Regions from separate parts of the Homo sapiens genome. Here region 2 is linked to region 1. The links come from fine-mapping of genetic effects on gene expression. A gene starts in region 1. The other region holds a variant in brackets. All regions are shown on one strand. Distances are between the middles of the regions.

The links.
Region 2: its variant is fine-mapped to the expression of TCAF2 in whole blood (TOPMed, PIP above 0.99).

The regions. Positions count from the first base shown.
Region 1 is chr7:143,616,461-143,625,756 of GRCh38, reverse strand. It overlaps TCAF2 (TRPM8 channel associated factor 2), which reads right to left and starts at 4,783. Exons shown (of 8, transcript NM_001363538.2): 1 at 4,737-4,783. It overlaps LOC101928466 (a long non-coding RNA gene), which reads left to right and starts at 7,048. Exons shown (of 4, transcript XR_007060573.1): 1 at 7,048-8,588. RefSeq lists a silencer at 4,719-4,878.
Region 2 is chr7:143,728,418-143,737,713 of GRCh38, reverse strand. It overlaps TCAF2 (TRPM8 channel associated factor 2), which reads right to left. Exons shown (of 8, transcript NM_001363538.2): 8 at 7,304-9,296. Among named protein-coding and RNA genes, the nearest start is that of CTAGE6, 25 kb to the left of the region's middle. The variant A/G (reference allele first, on the strand shown) is at 5,386.

The sequences.
Region 1 (9,296 bases):
CAGGCTTGATCAAGACAAATTCTCCTACACTCCCTTGTACCTACTCCTTGCCCTCTGCCTCAGGGTCACAGAACAGCTGCCTTCAGCTATTCTCCCCTGGAGCTTTGCAGAGCCTTCCGACCTTATAGAAGGGCCACTCCCTTTCCCTTGGAACATACTAAGCAGGCTTCCCTTCCAGGTTTTCTCACCCTCACTCCTCACTCTGCCTGGAATCTTCCTCTCACAGATGCCCACATGGCTCATTCCCTCACTTCCTTGAGGTCTCCTTTCAAGTGCTACCTACCAGACCAGCCTTCCAAGCCGGCCATGAGCTTGTTTGCACTCATCTCTATTCCCCTTTCATCTTGGTCATCCTCCGTGTTGCAGAAAACTGCATTTCTTTGGTTCTCCTGTTCCCTGGATCCTGGTGGGTTCAGCCCATGGGAGAGAGAGGTAGAAGACTGAAATCAGGAAGGAAGAAGGAAGGAGTTTAAGTGCTTGCTTCTCTCTTCAGGCTGTATTTCTGGTAACCACAGTGTCTTCTCTGAGACTCCAGCTTCTAGCAGACAGACCTTTCATCTGTGGTTCCAGCTCCTGCTGGGAAGGCATAGCATGGCTCCAGCTTCTACCAGGTGGCCGCAGCACCTGGACTTCAGTAATACCACCATCTCCCTCTGCTGGTTCTGCTGTTGCTGATCTCTGGGTTACTTGCTGTCCCCTGTGTGTATTTTCAGCTCCTCTATCATGGGTATAGTCAATTCCCCATACTAAATCCCTTCTGCTAGCAACGCCAACAAATCCTGACCAATCCAACTTGGTCTGACTGATAGGACTTCCCTGAACATCTTAAATAAAATAGCCTCCATCAGCCTTCCTGTTGTCATGCTATCCACTTATATTATCATCTTTCATGGATCTTAGCAATACCTGATAGAGCACATATATATTAGTTTCCTTAATACCTATCTCTCCCCTGGAATACAAACCTCATGATGGCATGACTTGCCTGCCTCGATCTCTGCTAGACCCCCATTGTCCAGAATGCAGCATGATCAACAATCGGTGCTCACACAAACAAACAAATATTCTTTCATGCATTTAAGAGGTATTGATGAGCACTCTCTAGGTTCTATTTACTAGACATGGAGATAAAGTGGTAAGACAAGCTTTTCTATTCAGCTTTGGCCACAGGAGGGAGTGGCAGTGAGGGCCCAGCCTCTCTTGTGTCTTGGTGCATTTTAATCATCCTGCTTTTGATTTGTGGTGGTTCCAAACTGAGTGGAAAATCACCTGTATTGCAATGGAAGCTTGTTGAAGAGGGGAACCAACTCTATTGTTTATCCTGAGTCAGACTCCCTAAGAGGGGAACAAACACTCACCTGACATGGAGTGGGATCTTGGGCACCTTCTTAGAGACCTTGAACCGGTCTCTGTCCCCATAGGTGTCAGTGAAGTACACTCCGGCTACACTTGTCACCTTGTTCCCAGGGAACCTGGAGAGCACCTTGTCAGGGCCGTGCTGGCTGGCCCAGTACCAGGCCTGGCCCCCGATTAACAAGCCCCCTCCATGTTTCACAAACTGGATCAGCGTTGCAGTCAAGGTGTCATTGTAGGCATTGATACAGTAAACCCCTAGGGGCTCTCCTGGTTCTGGCTTGACCTGTGCCTCAAGCCCAGCATCCTGTAGGATGTTTACTAGAGGTGCCAGGGATGGACGCACTCCCACGGGAGCCCCAGGACAGGGACAGAGCCAGCTCACTGCATTGAGGAGAAATGAAGCCAAGCCAGCATGCGACAGGTAGCCCTCATGGGACACAACCACGAGGCGGCCTCGGCCGTAGGAGGAGGCAGCAATGAGCACCTGGCCCTTGTCATTCACCATCACGGGGAAGGCGGCTTCTCCAATAAGAAGGAGTTCACTGGGGATGGGGCCTCTGGGGACATCCCAGCATGTCACTCCATCCATGAGGGCCTCAAACGCAGCAGCAGCAATGGTCGCCATGGTTCTATCAGCTGCTGCAGGGGGAAGCAAAGACTTTCATGTATTTAAGAGATACTGATAAGCACTGCTGGTCAGAACAGATGAAGGAACAGGTGAAAAAAGCAAACAACTAAATGCATTCACCTCCAAATTTTACTGGATTCCCCATTGTGGGCCAAGCACTGTTCTAGCACTGGGAGTACAGCAAGAAACAAAACAGATAAGGTTTCCCTTTTCGTGATTTGAATATTTTAGAAGGAGAAAGATAATGAATAAATAGGTAGATAAACAGATAAATAAAATGCAACAATCACTATGATGAAAATAAAACACAATGATGTGACATGGAGGAACTGGAAGACTACTTTAGATTGGGTGATAGGAAAGGACTCTGACAAAGTGGCATTGAAGCTGAAACCTGAAATGCAGTGAGCAAAGGGCATTCCAGCAACGAGACCACTTTGGGGTGGCTGAGAGCCAGGAGCAGGGAGGAGCAGGACCCCAGGAGGAGGGAGGGACGGGCTAGATCCTGCAGGGCCAGTAAATCAAGGTGATAGTTAAGTTCGTGTGCCTGAGTGGACACAGTGCTTGATTTTTTTGAACAGAAAGGTCATAGACCTGTCAAAACATGCCTTTCTTCTGACAGCTTTGCTAAGTTGGAAAGTGCCCCCTAATTTATCAAATCTGCCCTAATGGAGAGGACCCTCCTCTATTTGGTAGCATTATGCAGTTTCCGGAGGTCTTTTAAAATTGGCTGTGCCTAACACTGAGACTATTTGTCCCTTTAAGCAGCCCCTCTTGGATAAATGACTTCAGTCTCAGTTTCCCCATCTACAAAAAGAGAATAATACAGCCATGGGAAGATTGTTTTTGAAGATTAAAGGAATATGGATAGGCCAGGCGCAGTGGCTTATGTCTGTAATCCCAGCACTTTAGGAGGCCGAGGCCGGTGGATCACCTGAGCTCAGGAGTTTGAGACCAGCCTGGCCAACATGGCGAAACCTGTCTCTACTAAATCTACAAAAAATAGCTGGGCATGGTGGCGTGCACCTGTAATCCCAGCCACTTGGGGAGGCTGAGTCATGAGAATTTCTTGAACCCTGACGGTGGGGGGCGGAGGTTGCAGTGAGCCGATATCGCACCAGTGGACTCTAGCCTGTGCGAGAGAACAAGACTCTGCCTCAAAAAATAAAATAAAATAAAATAAAATAAAATAAAGTAAAGTAAAATAAAATAAAGCAAAGAATATGTCTAAAAATGCCTTGTCTGGGGTTGGTACACATACAGTGAGCACGGAATAAACGAGAGTGTCTGTCCCTTTGCTGTCCTTTTAAGTTTCCCGGGTTGCCGAGGGCAGCGTTGCAGATTGCAGTAGTGCAGTAGTCCCCTGGCTGCCTGTGCCGCCTCCCTTTGCGCGTCTCTGACGAGCCCACTGTAAGGGACTTTCCTCTGTGCTCTGATGGCTTCTCACCTCTGCAGGTGCACAAGGCAGCCCTGAAGTAGCGGTGAGTTGACACTAGGGTGAGCTTCGCCCAGTAGAGCGGGGATTCACAGAAGAGTGCCCCGTGGCTTTCCCGAGGTGCCCATCAGAGGTCCTCGGAAGGCACCCGGAGGAAAGGAGCGCCATGTGGAAGACCCTCAGCCACATGCTCCTCCTGGCTTTCCCTTTTTTCCTTGTCTCATTCTCTCCACTTCCTCATTTGGGCTTTTTGGTCTCACTTACCCCCAAAAAATTACCTGCAGGTAAGCCCTTGCATAAGGCTTTGCTTTAGGGCAGAATCTAAACTAAAACACACACCAAGCCCTTGAGCCACAAGTGCCTCCTTCCTCTCTCCCTCCTGCTTCTATATGCAGTCAACCACCTCATTTGGTTAATCTCTCACCATCTCTCTCAAACATCAGTCCCTTTAGTTGGCAATCATTCCAGACTAAACCAATATGGTTTTAGTCCCCAGGATGTATTCTCATCCACAATCGTCCTCTACAAGAACTCTAACAAGAACCGTTACATTTCGTCCACTCTCTCTAAGGTGAAACTTGCAGAGCGCCTCAGCCTGGCTTCTCCAGGGTCTGGCATGCCAGTGATTACTGGACGTTTTTCCTGCTACTTTCTTCCACTAAATCTCTCCAAGCTCGGAAAGGTTGGCATTCTGAGCATGCCCTGCATTTCCTGTAGAATTCCATCTCTTCCCCTCTTCCCTTCCTATCCGCCACCTTTTTCTTAATACTGCTCGCGGGAAAGAAATTCACAAAAGAGAGCCAATACTCGGCAGAGCATTGAGAATGCGGGTACCTGATCTCAGCCTCAGAAGTTACCAGTGGAAAAAAGCAGCCGAGAGAGATCCGGAAGCCTGAGCTCAAGATCGTGCTAGCTACCTCCCAGAAGACAAGCGACGTCTTTCACTTCTGGGGCAGTACCAGTTTGACAGGATAAACAAAAACAGACAAAAAACCTCAGATGAGTAATATGTCCCGGAAAGCTGACCCAGCATTCCGCAACGAAATGTGCCCTCGTGCACGCACACACCATGCACATCTTTGTCAAATTCGTAATTTACAAGTTCAAATAGGAGGGAGAAACGTGTTTTGAGACAAACTGCAAATAGCACCAGACTAACAAAACGAAATGAAACCAAAGACCTAGACCTAAGAAGGGAGGGACACCCCCTGACGCCGGGTATGGTCTGGGGCCTCCAGCACTTTGCGGCGACCCCCAGTGCCCTAGGTGCTCAGCTACCGCCCCCACCCCAGGACCCGCTGGGATTGGAAAACTCACCCCTGAGCAGTGCGGATACCTAGGGACTGACGGACAGGCTCTGCAGTGGCGCGCGGGGGACGGGTCGGAGGCGAGGCGGGGCGGGGCGGTCCCGGAGGCGGGGCGGTCTCGGAGGTAGGGGCCGTCCTGGAGGCGGGGCCGTCTCGGAGGCGGGACTGTCCTGGGGACTGAGCTGTCTCGGAGGTGGAGTCCTGCGGTCCCGGAGGCGGGTTGTACCGTAGGCGGGGCTCTCTCGTAGGCTGGCCGGTCCTGGAGGAGAGGCTGTTCTGGCGGCGGGGCTGTCTTGGAGGCTAGGAGGTCTCGGAAACTGGGCTGTCCCGGAGGCGGGGCACAGGCTGGGGTGAGGCGGAGCCGACCCTGAGGCGGGCCCGGGGCGCGGCTACCGCTCCCTGAGCCACGCCCGTGGTCTCCCGTTCCATCGGTGGACCCCACCTCGGGCCGTGCTGCGGGCTCTCGGGGCGCCTACCAGGTGAGCGACCCCGCCTTCCCGGAGGGATGCTTTGGCCTGCATGGGGCCCCAAACCGGCTCCCTCAGGGTCTCTGCGGGTTCTTGGATGCGAGAGGGGACCCAGCCAGTTTGCTGTCGCACTTGATAAGAAAAGCAAACCCTAAGTCTCCAATAAACCATATTTGGGGCGAATAGTTCCCTAACAACAACGTATGCCACGGGGGAGGCCCCGCGTGGAATCAGGCTCCCTTCCCTCCGATCTTGGGGTGGGCTCAGCAGAGCCGGTAGCCGCCGCGTCGCCTCCGTCGCTCGAGCCTCTGCGTGGAGGGCTGCCCCCTAGTGGTCAGCTGCGGGCCATGCACTTCGAGCCCGGTGGATGCTTATGGCCATGGTGCGGGGTGCTCAACTAGGGCATTTTTCTCTCAAAGTATCCACAGAAATGCTGCCCAGCAAGTTATATTCTTGCTGGGAGGGAAACGTGCCTGTGGCATCACTAACACAGATTCGTCCGTGCATGGCTGGAGAAATTAAGCTAAAGCTATAGAGTGGCTGGTGCTCGAATTTCTACGCAAGAGAGGTCAGAAGGTGAAAATCAAGGTGGAAGGGTGTGGTCAGGAGGAGGATTTGGTGTAGTCTGGAGTTTAGGAACGTCTTACCTAGGAAAGTGATGACTGTGCTAGAATGAGGGGAAAAAAGTAGTCTGTCTGCATTTTGCCCACCATTGAGTCCTCATTGCCTATTTTCATTTCTGACATAGAATAGGCTTTAGTTTCTTAATAAATAACTAAATATATGCTAAATAAATAAGGATATAGTGAACGTCCAAAAATATCTGTCGAATTAGTGAGTTAATAACTGACTCTTCGGAGGACTAGTGGAAATCTGATTGGCAGAGGACCAAATACATTCAGGTTTCAGAAATAAAGAGCAAGGAGAAACTTACACAGAAAAGAAATTGTGGATAAGACTTGCCAGAATTTGGAATAATTCCGGCTAGAAATCCAACGTGCGGTGAAGTACGTTGAGTTCTTAGGCTTCATATCAGGGAACAACTGACCTTTGGGAGCTGAAGTGGGAGATGGACATCAAAGAAAGTGGGTCAGTAAAGTTCCACGTTAAAAGCTGATTCAGGCCCGGGTGCGGGGGCTCACTCCTGTAATCCCAGCACTTTGGGAGGCCGAGGTGGGTGGATCACCTGAGGTCAGGAGTTCAAGACCAGCCTGGCCAACATGGAGAAACCCCGTCTCTCCTAAAAATACAAAAATTAGCCGGGCGTGGTGGCACAGGCCTGTAATCCCAGCTACTCGGGAGGCTGAGGCAGGAGAATTGCTTGAACCCGGGAGGCGGATGTTGCAGTGAGCAGAGATCATGCCACTGCCCTCCAGCCTGGGCGACAGAGCGAGACTCCGTCTCAACAACAACAACAAAAAGCTGGCTCGGTATCTTTTGTGTGTTTGTACTCTTAGGTTTTAACCAGTCTCCACCTACATCAACCTCACTCCTCATGGTAAAGTACTACTATTGTTCTAAATTAACTCCTGAGAGTATTTTGGTGTTGCTCTAATAGAAGAAAGGGGCTTTAAACAAAGGTGATTTTTCCAGGGTCAGAGAGCAGAAAGTACCTGCCATTTGGGAGCAGGAGCTGCCTGAGGAATGGAACCTAACAACATAGGAACGGCATAACGGTTCCTAAAAAAAAAAAAAAAAAAAAAAAAGAAGAAAAAAAAGATTAAAGATGGTAACCAGCATTTACGTTCTGACTAAAGGGTGTCCGAGAGAGAATACAGTCATGGGTTCTTAGTTTCTGTTTTTGGTTAGGCGAGTAAAACCCCTTCCTCATCCCTCTTTTCCCCTTTCACTAGAGACAGAAACTAAAAACCGTGAGTTCAGGCAGCTAGAAACCTAAAATAAAAGAAAACGGAACAACAACAACAACAACGAAAATAAGGTGGGTTGGATAAGCTTCGAAATGGTTACTGCTTATGCAAAGGTGCAGGCCCCAGATCTTTCCTTTTACTTGGGAGAAAACAGACGCCATTCAGTGAAAGTCAACATATCCTTACTGGACACTTATTCTGTGAGGCACTCTGGGAGATAGAAATGCTATTATGGTCAGTAAATCTAGAGAGGAAAAAAGACAAGAAAACAACTATACCAAAATTGGCTACGAATCAGGTGCAAGGGCACATAAAAGAAGCAGCAATTATTTCTGATCAAAGGATTAGAGAAGAATGTGCACAGAAGGTGACACAGAAACTCAGCTTAGAAAAATGTATATTTGCGGGGAGATAAAGGGGAAGGTATTACAATGTGAGGCTGTATAAGATTCCAAAGCACAGAGATATGAATGTGAAAGGCTTAATTTGAGAAAGACAAAATGTTCATAGTGACTGAAACTTGTTAGCAGAACTTGCATAGTGCTAGCTCTAAAGAGAAGTTTGGGCTCGGTTTAGAGGGACTTTGGCTGCCATACTAGGGAGTTTGGATTCCATTCTACAGTGTGGAGGAAGATTTTTTAAAAGCACCATTTAGTAAACACTGTGGTTGCCTCCTCAACATCTATTCCCTACACTACCCCTATTGTCCTTTCTAACCAAATCCATTTTTTTTTTAAATCAGATAATCCACCTCTCCTTTATGAGATTCAGGGGACAATGAATTCATCTCCATTTCCAAGGATAGATCTGTATTAGCTTAAATCAGGCAGGCTAACTCATACTTCTTGTGCTTCCATGACAGACTCTTTCTGGGTTATACGTAATAAATATACATAAACAATATTATACTTCATTGTCCAGCATATACAAGAGGCAAACACAAATCAGAAATATTATCTTTACCAGTGGTACATGAGTCCATTTTTTGTCAAATAGAGAGCAATTGCTGCAGTAATTGCAGTTTATCACTAAGCCAGATGCAGGGGTTACTCATACATATGCCTTCTAATTGTGGGCTACTATTAATAGTCACTGGCCTCCTTCTTAAATTATTTTCAGTCATGAGCTTAACTTAATGTGGTACCATATATTCTTTCTTTTAAGGACCTTAAGAATCTGGGAAGAATTAGCCACACTCTAATTTAGGAACAGAGATGGATGAATCCACCTATGGACATTTACTGGTATGAGTCACTGGGGAAGTTCACTAAGTCACTATTTAAGATGATCCAGAACAGGTGTCTACAGCTGCCTTAAGAATGAGTACTATGGTGGTGATGAAAATGTTCCTCTCAGATGTCCAACTGCAGGGGGTGGGTATGAAATTGCCAGATGGCCCCAGCTGGTGTGCTCTGGAATCCTTGGCGCCAAGGCCATGCTGCCAGGGGCTTCTCCAGGCTGGTGATCAAATGTAGTGAGGATCCTCAGGCAGGCCCATTCCTGGAAGACATGGGACTCTCCCGATAGGTGAGTTTGGCTCAAGGACTCCTCATGGTCCTGAAAGAAACTCTCTGAGACCTGTACTTCAGTGGAAGCCTGTCTTTCCTTTGCTGTCTCCTTCCCAAGGGTTAAACCTACATTGCAGTCTAATGGTGGCTCTCCCGGCCTTCTCTGGCTCCCTCGACATTTTCTCTCACAGGCATTTCCTTTAATAAATCTCTCGCATATCTGATCCTGTCTTGGCTTTTGCTTCTTGGAGGACCCAGAATAACACAAGTACTGTCATAATTATATCTCCTCACTTTAAATCTCTCAAGTGTAATTACTAAAATTGTGTTGTAGTGGAAGTAAAAAGCAAGGTTACTAACTTGAGAGTATCTATGAAACACTCACCCATTAAGTTTCATTCTTTAGTACATTTATAATAACTTTTATTCCAATTGTAGCATGGCCTATCTCCAAGGGCAAGTTCCTGCCTGCGTCTTCATTGAAAACAGTGGAACTTTGAAGCAATGGGGGAGTTTGTTGCTTCTCTTGACAAGCGGCCAGCCCTAATTCAGAGTTATAAAAGTTTTCATATTCTGCTTTTGGCATATCTGTAAAATATACTTGGGCATACATTTTTTTTTTCTGTTTGGATCATAAGTGTGTGAAACATACGTGGTAAGAGCCAGTTATATTCCAATCACAGAGGATGTCTTGGAACACATCACTGCCACTCCAGAGGTACTGAAA
Region 2 (9,296 bases), 110 kb before region 1:
CTATGTAGTTTAAGTTTGTGCACATAGGTAGTAAAACTAAAGGAGCAAAAGGAATGATCACAGAAGTCAGATTAGTGTTCCATCTGGTGGTAGGAGAGGGACAATGAACTTGGAGGAACATATGGAGGACTTCAATTATTGGCAACATTCTATTTCTTAATCTGTTGCTGATCTGATTGTTCCCTTTCTAATTATTATTTAAATTGTACATATGCTTTTAGATACATTTTTTATGAGCACAGTGTATTTCATTAAAAAAAGAATATTGTTGGGTTGCATCTTCTGACACTAAAAGTAAATTGGTTTGGGAAATTTTTATGGATAACACAAGTAGAGAGCATATTGACCAGTCAATTGCTTCATGGGAAGGGTAACATAAATATCTCTTTTAAATTAAAACCACGGCAAGAGACTGTGTTTGCCACAATGGGAACAATTTCACTGTTTCAACTGGTGATCAGGAGCTGAAAGGTTTTCTAAATGGCCACAAGGGAGAGACAAAGAACAAAGATTCTATGCAGAGGACACAGAACTTAAAATGTCGAGGGTTCATTCAAGATAGGAGTGACTTTAATTCCCTTTAGCAGTGCGTGTTATTCCATTTTAACAATATTTGTGAGCAGTAGGAGCTTTGACGGTCCCATTTAGTGTGACCAACCACTAAGGCTTTAATTTTTTCTGAAACTGTTTCGAAATACTAAGTTTTCAAATAAGTCAGGGACTTTAAGGCATTCAGGGGAGGAAATACAAGCAGGGTCATTTTAAATAAAGGTAGGGTCATCTTTAAGGCTGGTCGCTGTTGCTCATGCCGGCAATCCCAGCACTCTGGGAGGCCGAGGCTAGGTGGATCATGTGAGGCAGGAGTTCGAGACCAACATGGCCAAACCCTGTATCTACTAAAAATACAAAAATTAGCTGGGCATGGTGGCAAACACTTGTTGACCCAGCTATTTGGGAGGCTCAGGCAGGAGAATCACTTGAATGCAGAAGGCAGAGATTGCAGTGAGTTGAGATTTCATGACTGCACTCCAGCCTGGGCAACAGAGCGAGACTCCATCTCAAAAACAAACAAAACCACCACCACCAACAACAACAATAAAAACCCACTTCTTTAAAACTTAAAAGTGACCATTATTATTTCCCTAAAGTATTCTAGGGTGATTTCTGCCTCTTGAAATGTCTCCAGTTTGTTGGGAATTTAGATTTTACAGCTATTGGAGCTAATAACCTATGGGAACGTATGTGGTCCCTTATCCAATGCTTTTAGACATAATGAGAGGAGTTGGGGCATCCTTAAAAAGGATAAAAACCTTGAGTGTAAGACCTGCTTCCTCTAAGACTCCATCAAGCTCTTATTTTGAATCGCAGAATCTTTAAAACCCTCCAGTCTAGGTTGGACACGGTCTTGGTATTGGAAAAAAAATCAATTGTATATCCTGAGCGAAGTGTTCCTTGGATGAATGACCTTTACTGTAAAGTAACTGCTTTTTGTGTAACTAGGAATAACCTGATTGGTTTTGGCAGTTGGACTCTGCTTGCTCTGTGATTCAGTATTCAGACACATAGTCTAATGCAGGCAGAGTTACAGGCGATGGCAGATCCAGTAACTCCATAGGACAGTATGCTGGCTGAGAGTGTGGGCTCCAACTTCTAGGGTTGGAAATGTGGCTTCACAGCTTACTAGTTCTCAGCAAAATGAAGAGTGTAATTGTACTTACTCTGTAGGAATGTTGTGAGCATAAATAAATATAAAAGCACTTAAAACAGTTTCTGAAAAGAAGCGGTTTATTGATGATTCACCTAACTTACACTGATATCCTTGGGAGTAAATGTGGTCTGGAAAATAGATTTTTAGGGTCATTGCTTGAATGGGATTATGAAATTATATAAATGCACAATATATTTTTTGTTATAACTCCCGTCTGCTACAATAATTCACGGAATCTTCCCATATGTAACTTTACTAATTCAAACCTGAATGGTCCTCATTTTAACTACCTGTTCAAATGATTTGTTATTTAAGACAAAAACTATGTGGCTGGGAGTAGACTGCATGATCCTATTAAAAGAAGTATCATTTGTGAGGGTGAATCAGTCTCATGCATTGAATATGTATTTATCTAAGTGAAGCACACAGCTGCTTAGGTTCCAGTCTGCAGACCCAGGAAAGCATTGTTCCAACTGAGTGCCTTACCTAAGTGCTGAGAATTTTTTTTTCATCATTGTGAGTGTCCTTGCATGGCTTGGTTCTCCACAGTGGGGCCAATTACACTGGACTTTAATTTCCAAATCTCCACCTAAGTTTTTCTTTTTTAGCAACAGAGAGTGATATGGCCAGGCTTTGTGTCCCCACCCAAATATCACCTTGAATTGTAATACCTAGGTGTTGAGGGAGAGAGCTGGTTGGAGGTGATTGGATCATGGGGGCCAGTTCCCCCCCATGCTGTTCTCGTGATAGTGAGTGAGTTCTGAAGAGATCCGATGTTTTATTAAGTGTTTGGTAGTTTCTCTCTTGCTCTCTCATCACTCACCTGCCACCATGTAAGACATGCTTGCTTTCCTTTTCGCGATGATTGTAAGTTTCCTGAGACTGCCCCAGGCTTGCAAAATTGTGAGCCAACTAAACGTCTTTCCTTTATAAATTACTCAGTCTTGGGTATTTCTTCATAGCAATGTGAAAATGAACTAATACAGACAGTTAGTTGTTTTAGGGCTATTAAGGGCCTAGGAATAAAAAGCAGTGGCTTTGTTGTTGTTAATTCTCCCCTTCCATCTGTACTGCACAATAAAGATGATTGGGTTTTTTTCAGATTATTCTTGATGAAAAGGACAATACATTCAAGAACATTTTATAAATTTGTTGGTAGCCTAGGAAAAAGAAACAAAGGGATCTTTCTTATTGAATTTTAAAACAGAAATGGCTTATCAAACTGCTCCATTGGGCTGCCTTTGGGTTTATCCTCTTGATATGAGGTAATATGATATTTGAAGTGGTGTCTGGGAAGCTGTTCCTCAGGTAAGCTCTTGGTTACTCCTCAGGGTGAGGACTTTTTCTCTCCATCTGTTACTCAACTTCTTTGTTCTCTAGATCTCCAGCTTGAGAGATAGTTTACAATTTCTATCTTAATTTTTTCTCAACACCATTTTTCCCAACCTATGCTTAACATTGCAAAATGATGCTCTCTCCCTTTATCATCTTGAAGAGTTTATAGAGATGATGGTTATATTTTTTTATGAAAAAAGTTTCTCATGGCTTTCCCAAATGAAAAGTGAATCAGTACAAAGAGTTGTGTGTAGAAAATGTAGGAACTTCTGCAAGCTGAGTACGGGACCAAACTGTCCTCCTACCAGAACTGGGAAGTGCACCAATCTTGCACAAGAAGGCTTTTCAAAATGGAAGCCAGGCATGGTACTAAAGACCTTGCAGCAGGAACAAGTTCATGAAAATAATATCCTGAGAAACGCAATCATGCCATGCCTATAAGGAGATAGCATTGACTGAAAAGTAGCTCTCCTTCTTTGGAAACCTTGACCACATTTAACGTCTTGGCTGACCTGCTGTTCATGTGCTAGCTACGTGCTGCTGAGGCCATATTAGCGGGGGGCACTTTTGATCTTAGATGAATCAGTGTATCAGAGATGTACCTGAGCAATACTCAGAAAGGTCTGGTTTCTATTTCAAAGTTTCTGGTGAAGACAGCCTAGGGGCCTGAAGAAATAACTTATCATAGGAAACTAGGTTAGATTCAAAAGTGGAACAACAATTTGAAGTAGGCTAATAGCATCTTTTTGTTTTCTTCTACAGAAATGGAGACTAACAGATAGATGTACCGGTATGAAGGTGCCATGTATAGGCATCTCAGCTGCCTTGTTTTGGAGCTGGGAGGCCATATAAAATAATTTGAATTTTTTTTAGGGGGGTCTTAATTTGTCATTACTGTTATTGTGGGATATATCCCTGTTCCAGAACCTAATAACATGGCAGAACAGGAAAAATGTTAATTCAAAATGAAAGTATCTACACTGTAGTTAACTTTGGCTGGAAATGTTAGCAGAGGAGAGGAATTGACATCGAAATGTAGTAGAAATAGGGCCCAGGAAATGTCAGATAAATACTTTTTTCACCAAAATACAGAAACTCCTGAAAATAGCTTATACTATTCACTGACCAAGTCCCAAGGAAAAGGAGAAATAAGAATTAATGGAAAATTCACTCTCACAGTGCAGCCTGTTTTCAGAAGCTAAAAATAGGAGAATGGTTCTAATCACACTAAAGCTTCTTTCTGGAATAGTGAAACCATTTTCTTGAATAGGGATAAATAACAGAGGTCTTTTCTTCTTCTTCTTCTTTCTTTTTCTTTTCTTTTTTTTTTTTTTGAGACAGAGTCTCACTCTTTTGCCCAGGTTGGAGTGCAGTGGCACGATCTCAGCTCAGGGCAACCTCCGCCTCCCGGATTCAAGTGATTCTCCTGCCTCAGATTCCCAAGTAGCTGGAATTACAGGCATGTGCCACCACACCCAGTTAATTTTTGTATTTTCAGTAGAGACAGGGTTTTGTCATGTTGGCCAGGCTGGTGTGGAACGCCAGACCTCAGGTGATCCGCCTAAAGACAGCAAACATATACAATAGTTGGAAATCCTCATCTAGTCTTCTCCCATTATCATACACTCTTGTTAGTAATGTGTTAATACAATAGACCCCTACACCAAAACTGATATGTGACAGGCCCTGCCCTTGGGGCTGTAGATACAGCTGTGAATAGGGTAGGTCTAGTCCCTGCCCCTATGAAGCTTCCATGTAGTGGGAAAGAGAGATTTTAAACAAATAATTACAAATGTGATGACTGATATATAAAGGAAGTTACAGGTTTTATCGGAACATGAGGCTTAGAGACACGGCTCGAGGAAATGACCTCTGGGTTAAGAGCTGAAGAAAAAAAGAAAACCTTAAAAATACTGATACCCCAATCCAAAGTAATATAGAGAAGTGCCGTCCCTTCTCCAAGGCCACCACTAGCTCATAAAATGCCTCTGTGTGAATTAGAGAATGTCGCTCTTGCTATCCTGGCTGGCTCAGTGGTGGCACCCCAGTGGCCCACCTTTGTGTGTGACCCAAATGGCACGTCCACAAAGTGTGTCCCTTCTCCACAGGGCAGGTTTTGTTTTATTAAAAATACAACACTAAACACTATTTTACCAAATTTAGCAAATGGAGAAAATATACATTGAAATTATTCACATTTGAAAAAGATTGCAGACCATTCAAGTTTAATTAAGTCCTGGTTAAAGATACTTAAAGATTTAACAGGAAAAAACAAAAAGTGAAAATGTTTTAATTTCTTATGATAAATATAAATGATAAATGAGTCCTCACTCTGAAAATAT[A/G]ACTCTAAAAAAGGACATTTTTCTAGTTGACTTTTGTTGTTGTTCTACCCAAAAGGAAGCCCAAACATCAGAAACTTCTCTATTCTATTGTGAAGTGGAGGGAAGGACAGGTGGAAGAAAGGAATGACCCAGGAGCACAGAACAATCTGTAGAAATGAGAAGGAGGGCCGCATTCACGCTGAAATGTGTGCATCACAGCTGGAATAAAGAAAGCAAGGGATAGAGGTGGGAGGCAAATCTGGAAACACTCGCAGAGACCAAATCATGGAAGACTATGTTGGCATGCAAGCTGTGTTGTAAATTTTAATACAGTTTATATCTATCTTGTTTAAAAGGTGTCATGCTTGCATAGGGTAGAAAACATATGTGGTAGAAATACAATATTAAATTACTAACAAAGAGCTTATAAGAAAAACAACAGGAATCTGCCCAAACCCTACTCTGTCTTTATCTCCCCTGTTTCTCTACTCTTTCAATCCTACTCTCCCTAAGAAATTGTTTCAAAACTTAAAAAAAACAAGTCTTCTACTTCTCTTTTTTTCTTTTCTTTTTTCTTTTTTTTGGACGGAGTCTCACTCTATTGTCCAGGCTACAGTGCAGTGGCGCGATCTCAGCTCACTGCAACCTCCAGCGATTCTCCTGCCTCAGCCTCCTGAGTAGCTGGGACTACAGGCATGAGCCACTGCACCCAGCTAATTCTGCATTTTTTTTAGTAGAGATGTGGTTTCACCATATTGGCCAGGCTGGTCTCGAACTCCTGACCTCGTGATCCACCCGCCTCGGCCTGCCAAAGTGTTGGGATTACAGGCGTGAACCACTGCACCTGGCAAAAGTCTTTTACTTCTATAGGTATAAATAGTAGACTTACACCATTACAATTTTACTACAAAATTTCTAAACATAGGCAAAAGTTGAATAAGGATCCTTCAAGAGCCCCTTCACTTAGCTTCAATAACAAACAACATTTGGCACTGTCATTACCAATTCTCCAGTACCAAAGAAAATGTATGCTTCCCAGTACAGCCAGTAAAAGTCTGTCGTATGCACTTCATCACCCTGGCAAGGGCCACCTTCCCATCACTTGAACCAATCCTTGTTGGAAGGTATGGACAATTAGATGAGCATGGATTCTGTGCCCACTCCTGCCAACAGTGTGGGCCAACCCCTTCCAAACCAAGTGGACTCTGTGTTGATGTTGGTGTACCAAAGGAAACCAAAGGAAAACTGATGGGGCTTTTAGCAAAGCAATTGAGTGGCTCATGGGAGGGAAAAGCAAACCAAACCCATGTCCTGTACAGTAGTGATTGGACAAAAATATACAGTCCAAGGGAAATTATAAGCACTAGTTCCAAAGTGAGACAAGCTACATTCAGTATCTATCCTACTGTTCACAGGACATGTTTTTTTCTTTGGGTTGGTTCCAAGACCATCCAATAATTTTCTTCTAATAATTTTTCTAGACTTAGAACTGTGAAATTATGGAAGTAAATGTCTCAGAAATCATGGATCATCCCTATCACTGGCAGCAAATTAGTTTCTGTGAATAGACAAAAGAATCTGAGAATACTGCAGTTACAATTAACTATCAACTTAAAAACAAGAGGCAAAGTCACAGTCTCTCTGTATGAGAGACAAGGAGCTACAGGCTCCAACTTCTACCAGGAAGTGTGTGTGTGTGTAAGAAGCCAGACATTGTCTCTGTTTCTAGGGCAATCTATTAAACCCAGCAGTATCCATCATTTTACCCTAACATCACTGTTGAGAACACCAGTTCTGCAACCTACAGAATGGGAGAAAATTTTTGCAAGCTACCCATCTGACAAGTTCTGATATCCAGAATCTGCAAGGGACTTAAACAAATTTACAACAACAACAAAAACACATCAAAAAGTGGGCAAAGGATATGAACAGACACTTCTCAAAAGAAGACATTTATGTGGCCAATAAACATGAAAAAAAGCTCATCATTACTGGTCATTAGGGAAATGTAAATCAAAACCACAATGGGGTACCATCTCATGCCAGTTAGAATGGCGATCATTAAAAAGTCAGGAAACAACAGATGTTGGTGAGGCTGTGGAGAAACAGGAATGCTTTTACACTGTTGTTGGGAGTGTAAATTAGTTCAACCATTGTGGAAGACAATGTGATGATTCCTCAAAGATCTAGAACCAGAAATACCATTTGACCCAGCAATCCCATTACTGGATATACACCCAAAGGACTATAAACCATTCTACTATAAAGACACATGCACACATACTTTTATTGCAGCATTATTTACAATAGCAAAGACTTGGAACCAACCCAAATGCCCACCAATGATAGACTGGATAAAGAAAATATGGCATATATACCATTGAATACCATGCAGCCATGAAAAAGAATGAGTTCATGTCCTTTGCAGGGACATGGATGAAGCTGGAAGCCATAATTCTCAGCAAACTAACACAGGAACAGAAAACCAAACAACACATGTTCTCACTCATAAGTGGGAGATGAAAAATGAGAACAAATGGACACAGGGAGGGAAACATCACACTGGGGCCTGTCGGGAGGTTGGGGGCAATGGGAGGGAGAGCATTAGGACAAATATCTAATGCATGCAGAGCTTAAAATCTAGATGATGGATTGATAGGTGCAGCAAACCACCATGGCACATGTATACCTATGTAACAAACCTGCACGTTCTGCACATGTATCCCAGAACTTAAATGAAAAAAAAAAAAGAACATCAGTTCTGGAGTTGAATTTCCTGAGTTCAAATTCCTTCTCTACCCAAGGCTGGATGACCCAAAGGCAGACAAATCACATTCTGAGGCAGGCAGAAAATCAGATACCAACACCTTTTTGGAAGTTAAACTTGTTATTGAATGAAAATTCAGTAGTAAACATTGGAAAAATCCAGACCTGGTTGAACATATTTTCATCTATTTTCTAGGTGACATTTTGTTTAAATTGTAAACCATTCATGAAGAATAAGTTCCACAATGTTTTCATTGCTATGGGCTTCAATTAAACCCTGGTTCTTCCTTTTATTCACTTTGTGACTTCAAAAAACTTATTTTATGTCCCTTAGTGTCAGTTTCCTCATGTACGAAATGGGGATCATACTAGTACCTACCTCAGAGGTCTGCTGGGAAGATAACATTAAATCACTCACAGTAAATAGCTCACGCAATGCCTGGAACATACTAATCACTCATTATGTGTTAGGTGTCATTACTGTTCTTTCCTTTGACAAATACTTCATGAACACCTTTGATGTGTAGAGCCCCTGGCAAAGGGTACTAGAGAAATAAAAGGAAATTATCTAGAATTGGGAATTTGTTAAATATGCTGACGGGATTCAGCAAAAGACATGCCCTAAATTAGTTCTCCTAATGGGAAGCCACTCTACTCTCAACATAGCCTAAGGAATGATATTCAAAACAAACAACAATATGGTCTAAAAGTAAACTGGAGAAAGTAGCTAGGCATACACTCATTAATCCCAGAGACAAATCTCCAATGAGAACTCCCTCTAACCGAAGAGTCAAGATGGGCTAGAATGAGATTAAGAGAAAGCTCAGGGGATGCTGGGGTGTGGGTTGATTAAGTGAGGATTACATCCGCTGCACCCAGTAATCCTGTTCCAGAGTGAAGCCCACTGTGCCTGTGGACCCCCCACCACTTGACAGTGCCTTGATTCCATGGTGACCAGAGGAGTCAGATGCCTGTTTTGTGGTATGAACGAATGGGCATATAGACTTAGTAGCAGCTGTTAACATGACTTTGTCCTTTGGTTGAAGGGCAAAGGGCAAACCCTGGAAAATGAAGCTAATCCCAAAGACCCAACCTCACAGCTCTGTGACACTCAGTTTCAGCACATGCCACTTTTCTTTGGGTTAGGTTATACCCAAGAATCCTTC